2 separate regions of the Homo sapiens genome follow, and region 2 is linked to region 1. A link means that fine-mapping ties the variant in region 1 to the expression of a gene that starts in the linked region. Tissue or cell type: spinal cord. Region 1 holds a variant in brackets; the other region holds the start of a gene. All regions are shown on one strand. Distances are between the middles of the regions.

Region 1 (2,755 bases):
GAATGTGAAGTTTTCCAAATGCAAGGTGCTCGTTGAACTTGTTGTGTTCCTTGAGTAGATTGGTAAGGATCGGGTGGAGGTGAGCTGGGAAGACTCACCTGTGCACCCCGCCCTGCTTGCCTCCAGGCTCTCAGAAGTAACCTTTCCCTGTCTCTAATACAGCTTGGCTCCGTGCTGAGTTTTTTCTGTTCCTGTGCAGACAGTGGCTGGGCCTGGTGTTTTTCACAATCTGTTTCCAGTGTCGGGCCTGGCAGTAACTCATTGTCGCCTTGTCAGGAGAATTCGCACAACCACGGGGACGGTGCAGAGGACTTCAAGCAGCAGGTGCCGTATAAAGAGGACAAACCCCAGGTGCCCCTGGAGTCCGATTCCGTGGAATTCAACAACGCCATCAGCTATGTGAATAAGATTAAAACCCGCTTCCTAGACCACCCAGAAATCTACAGGTCATTCCTGGAGATCCTGCACACGTACCAGGTAAGAACTCAGATTACAATTCCTTGTGGGTTTTGGATTTCATCCAGTTTGGGGCCCTGCAGATATTCAGATTTTCTTGTCGGAATTCATAAAATCCTGTAAAATTCTAATTAGTTGTGGGGTTTTTTGTTTGTTTTTTCTTAGAGTCTGGCTCTGTTACCCAGGCTGGAGTGCAGTGGCACGGACTCGGCTCATTGCAACCTCCACCTCCTGGGCTCAAGCCATCCTCCAACTTCAGCCTCCCAAGTAGCGGAGGCTACTTGGGGCTAGAACATGGGCGCACATCACCACACCTAGCTAATTTTTGTAATTTTTGTAGAGACAGGGTTTTGCCATGTTGCTCAGGCTGGTCTTGAACTCCTGAACTCAAACGACCCATCCACCTCAGCCTCCCAAAGTGCTGGGATTACAGGTGTGAGCCACCGTGCCCAGCCACCTTTTTTTTTTTTTTTTTTTGAGACAGGGTCTTGCTCTGTCACCTAGGCTGGAGTGCAGTGGTGTAATAATAGCTCACTGCAGCCTTGACCTCCTGGGCTCAAGCGATCCTCCTGCCTCAGCCCTCCAAGTAGCTGGGAGTACAGGTGTGTGTCACCACACCTGGCCAAGACAGTCTTTTTATCAGATGACTTTGTTATTG[C/T]TTAGGCAATACGGCCATCCTTTACTTTGCTGATTACAACTGGGCCCAGCACCAGGAGCTGGGGCTACAGAGACAAATGGCTGCTCCTGCTTAGCTGTTCATTGCAGTGGTGGGAAGAAACTCAGAGGTGGATTGGGGTGGAAAAGAAAGGATGTGGGCAGGAGAGGTGAGTCAGGGTTAATATGATTCCCAGCCCGGTTCCCAACCCGTCCGGGGCCAGGGAGGGGACAGTCAGGTTGAATCTTGACATATCAGTCGGAACCAGTAGGCAGGTTAGCCTGGAGGAAGGGTGGACATTCTTGGTGCCAGGAATGGCCTGTGCAAAGGTCCAGAGACCAGAGCAGACAGCGGCATCAGGGCGTCTGCAGGGGACTTGGGCAATGCAGGTGGGCTGGTGGCGAGGGACATCTGTGTCGTGAGTGGGGCTTAGACGTCCTCTTCACCCAGACGTGGAGTCTCTAACGCTTGGAATTTTTTTTAGCAGCAGAACCCATTTTTTTTCTTTTTTTTGAAACAGAATCTTGCGCTGTCACCCAGGCTGGAGTGCAGTGGCTCAATCTCAGCTCACTGCAACCTCAGCCTCCCGGCTTCAAACAATTCTCCTGCCTCAGCCTCCTGAGCAGCTGGGACTACAGGCATGGGCCACCACGCCCAGCTAATTAGCAGAACCCATTTTTTAAAATGAAATCCCTGCAGCCTTGACATGTCGAGTCAAGAAGCGGGATTCTTTTCAGCATAAGCGTTTCAGATCAAATGGATAGAATTTGTGTTCTGGGAACTCCACAGCATTTGTTGTCCACCGTGCTGGCATCATCATGGGCCTTAGCATCTGTGAGAGGCTGGTACAGCCCTAAGAACGCTTGTTTGTCATGGATGAGTGGTTGCCAGTGGCTGCTGTGAGCATCTGGTCTGTGTGGAGGGATGTGCTTGTGATCGTAGAATCTGTGGGCCCCTCCCAGGCTTTGTGGGGTCATCACATTTAGGAAGGCGCATCAGAGCAGTCTGTGCAGTGGCTCTGTTCTGTGGCAAAGGAAGGGGCAGGTTAAAGACACTAGAGATGAATTTAGACAAGGTCACAATGAGGGGTTGCCACAGACTCCTTCAGAGAGAGTGCCATGGGAAGGGACAACGCAGTATCCCCCAACCCAAACCGGGCTGCTGAGAGTTGGTTGAGAATGCAGACACCTGGCCACCATGCAGGATTCCCATTCATCAGGGCCCGCCCGGCATCGGCACAGTTTCTTTTTTTGTTTTTATTTTTTTGAGACTGGGTCTCACTGTTGCCCAGGCTGGAGTGCAGCGGCATCATCACAGCTCACTGCAGCCTCTACTTCTCTGGGCTCAAGCAATCCTCCCACCTCAGCCTCCTGAGTGACTGGGACTACAGGCGCTCACTCCGACGCCCAGCTAAGGGCTAAGAGGAGACGGGGTTTCACCATGTTGCCCAGGTGGGTCTTGGAACTCCTGGCCTCAAGTGATCCACCCACCTCAGCCCCCCAAAGTACTGGGATTACAGGCGTGGGCCACCATACCCAGCTGGATGGCATCTGCATTTTAAACAAGGCCCCTGGTGACTCCAGCCTCAGGTTGTCTAGTTTTTTCAAATGTAAGTTTGAACTGTTGTGTAAATTATCCTGGTTT
Region 2 (2,611 bases), 490 kb after region 1:
CAGGAGGCTGAGGCGGGCGGATCCCTTGAGCCCAAAAGTTGGAGGTTGCAAGAGCCGTGATCGCGCCACTGCACTCCAGCCTGGGCGACAGAGTGAGACCCTGTCTCAAAAATAAAATAAAATAAAATAATAAAGTAAATAAAAATATTGAGCAGGGCGAGGTAAGGGGGTATTAGAACTCTATTCTGTCAGACAGATTTTTCTTAACACGCAAGTGCGCCGCCCGCCCGCTCTGATCCAGAACCAGAGAATCCGCCATGCGAAGGCGCTCCCGGAGACCCCGCCCAGCCAGTGCCTGGAATTCCACCATCAGCGCTTTATTCCGAGTTTCAGTGCTGTCCTGGGTTAACCTGAAAGCAATCTCCGAGGCTCCCCTTTCTGGCTTTCGGGGAGCCAGAGACTGACCGGACACTTGGCTCTGCAGGTGCAGACCTGGACCAGAGAGACAGAGAGCCAAGGAAGTCCACAGTGGAGAGAGGGCTGTGCTGGGGGTTCCAGGAAGACTTCCTGGAGGAGGGGATCTTGGAGCTAGGCCTTGAAGACGAGTTTGTCAAATGAGGAAGGGCATCCGAAGCCGAGGGAACGGCAGAAGGGAACGCTGGGGAGGGGAGAGAATCTGGAGAGTTCCGGAAAAAGCAAGTAGGACTCTTTCCAGAAGTTCGGGCAAGATTTTCCCTGGATCAGGGCGTGGGTTCTCCAGTACTCGTCCCTCCCGGTCACCGAGATGCTCTGAGTTTCCGGTCTGAACCTGAACGTAAAGAGGTGTAGTCCCTCCTTTCTTGAACGGGAAAACTGAACGCACATAGGTCCTTGCCACGCCTAAGGCTGCGGAGTGAGCAGATGGAAAATGCGGGACTCAAAACCTCCCCTCGCTGTAATTTGCACTGCCCTGTGCCAAACTCTGTCCTTTCTTCCATTCCTTATTCCTATTGTCAGCCTCGCTGCGCTAGGACCCTAAAAATTTGGTCTCATGTTGCCCGGGGAACAACATTTCGCTACACCTACCTCCATACCGCCTCCCGCTCCCGCTCTCCCTTGCACCAGCCAATGGAAGCGAGTATCTTCAGACGGTGGGCAGGACGTATCCTAAGATACCCAATGGTGGTCGAGAATAGTTGAGCACTTTACTAGTCAAGCCGCGGAGTGGGCGGGGCCCCCTGCCCAGACTTGAAGCCACACAGGCAGGTCGGGCAGGCGGGTCGCAGGTTGTAAATCCATGTGGCGGGGGCTTTGGACCCTGGCGGCCCAAGCGGCACGTGGGCCTCGCAGGTGGGGCTACAGGGGAAGGGGTGCGACAGCTTGGGGTGCTGCTTGGACCCCAGACCCACTCCCTGGGTTTTAGGGGCCCAATTCCCTGCGGCAGAGCAATCATTCGCGTTCTTCCGTGCCTCAATCGTTCATGACCCTTGCGGCAGAGCCCATATCTGGGTCTCCTTCTGGCCTCACAGTCCCTAATCCGGTCACCCTTCGGCCTTCAGAACATCCAATTTGTGCATCCCCCAGCCGCAGAACCCCCCCACCTGGAGCATCTCGCGATCATCGAGCCCTCGGTCTACTTGACACTGAGGCTGAGCCTCCCAGGTGCGCTGATTCGCCTCCCCTCCGGTTCCAGATTGTGCACGCGCCGGAGCAGCGGCGCACCAGCCCCCGGCTCCGGCGCCACCATCTTCGCGCTAAGCTCTGGCCAAGGCCGCTGCGGCATCGCAGTGATCCGGACCAGCGGCCCCGCCAGCGGCCACGCCCTCCGAATTCTCACAGCACCCCGAGACCTGCCCCTTGCTCGCCACGCCAGCCTGCGCCTGCTCAGCGATCCCCGCTCCGGGGAGCCTCTGGACCGCGCACTGGTGCTCTGGTTCCCAGGTGAGGGTCCCCAGGTTCCGAGCCTCCTGTAGGTCCCATGACTCAGTTTCCCCCTTCCAAGGGTTTGCACTGGCTGTGCTGTCCTCCTGTCACCTGTCTGTCACATTAGGTCCCCAGAGTTTCACCGGTGAGGACTGCGTGGAGTTCCACGTGCATGGAGGCCCGGCAGTGGTGAGCGGCGTCCTGCAGGCCTTGGGTGAGTTGCAGCGTTGGGTGAGATGCTTGGTCCTCCCAATGGGCCTGGGTGGGGACCAGGGGGTGTCAGACTGGGACCTTCCTGCAGGCAGCGTGCCAGGGCTTCGACCGGCGGAGGCAGGCGAGTTCACCAGACGGGCGTTCGCCAATGGGAAGCTGAACCTGACCGAAGTGGAGGGGCTGGCGGACCTTATCCACGCGGAAACAGAGGCGCAGCGGCGGCAGGCCCTCAGGCAGCTGGACGGAGAGCTGGGCCACCTCTGCCGTGGCTGGGCCGAGACCCTCACCAAAGCAAGTCCCCCATTTGTCCATTCTCTCCCTCAGAGACCCCATCTGTGCAACCCCTGCATGAGACCCCCTCTCAATCCCGCATTCATTCCCTGCGTGAAAGCTTCCGGCCTATGAGCCGCCATTCTGGCCCCTGAAGTCGGGCTGGACAAATTGGGTGTGGGAAGGTGGGTTTCTGGGTGCACACACCACCTCTGCTCTCCCTGCCCCGCCAGGCTCTGGCCCACGTGGAGGCCTATATCGATTTCGGCGAGGATGACAACCTGGA

Evidence for each region. PIP is the estimated chance that this variant, and not a neighbour inherited with it, causes the effect.
Region 2: GTPBP3 starts here. The variant in region 1 is fine-mapped to the expression of GTPBP3 in spinal cord (GTEx, PIP above 0.99).

The regions. Positions count from the first base shown.
Region 1 is chr19:16,841,492-16,844,246 of GRCh38, forward strand. It overlaps SIN3B (SIN3 transcription regulator family member B), which reads left to right. Exons shown (of 19, transcript NM_001297595.2): 4 at 277-477. Among named protein-coding and RNA genes, the nearest start is that of SIN3B, 13 kb to the left of the region's middle. The variant C/T (reference allele first, on the strand shown) is at 1,115.
Region 2 is chr19:17,336,396-17,339,006 of GRCh38, forward strand. It overlaps GTPBP3 (GTP binding protein 3, mitochondrial), which reads left to right and starts at 1,158. Exons shown (of 9, transcript NM_032620.4): 1 at 1,158-1,269; 2 at 1,613-1,860; 3 at 1,970-2,056; 4 at 2,144-2,346; 5 at 2,559-2,611. The coding sequence starts at 1,217. RefSeq lists enhancers at 127-798, 799-1,470, 1,471-2,142.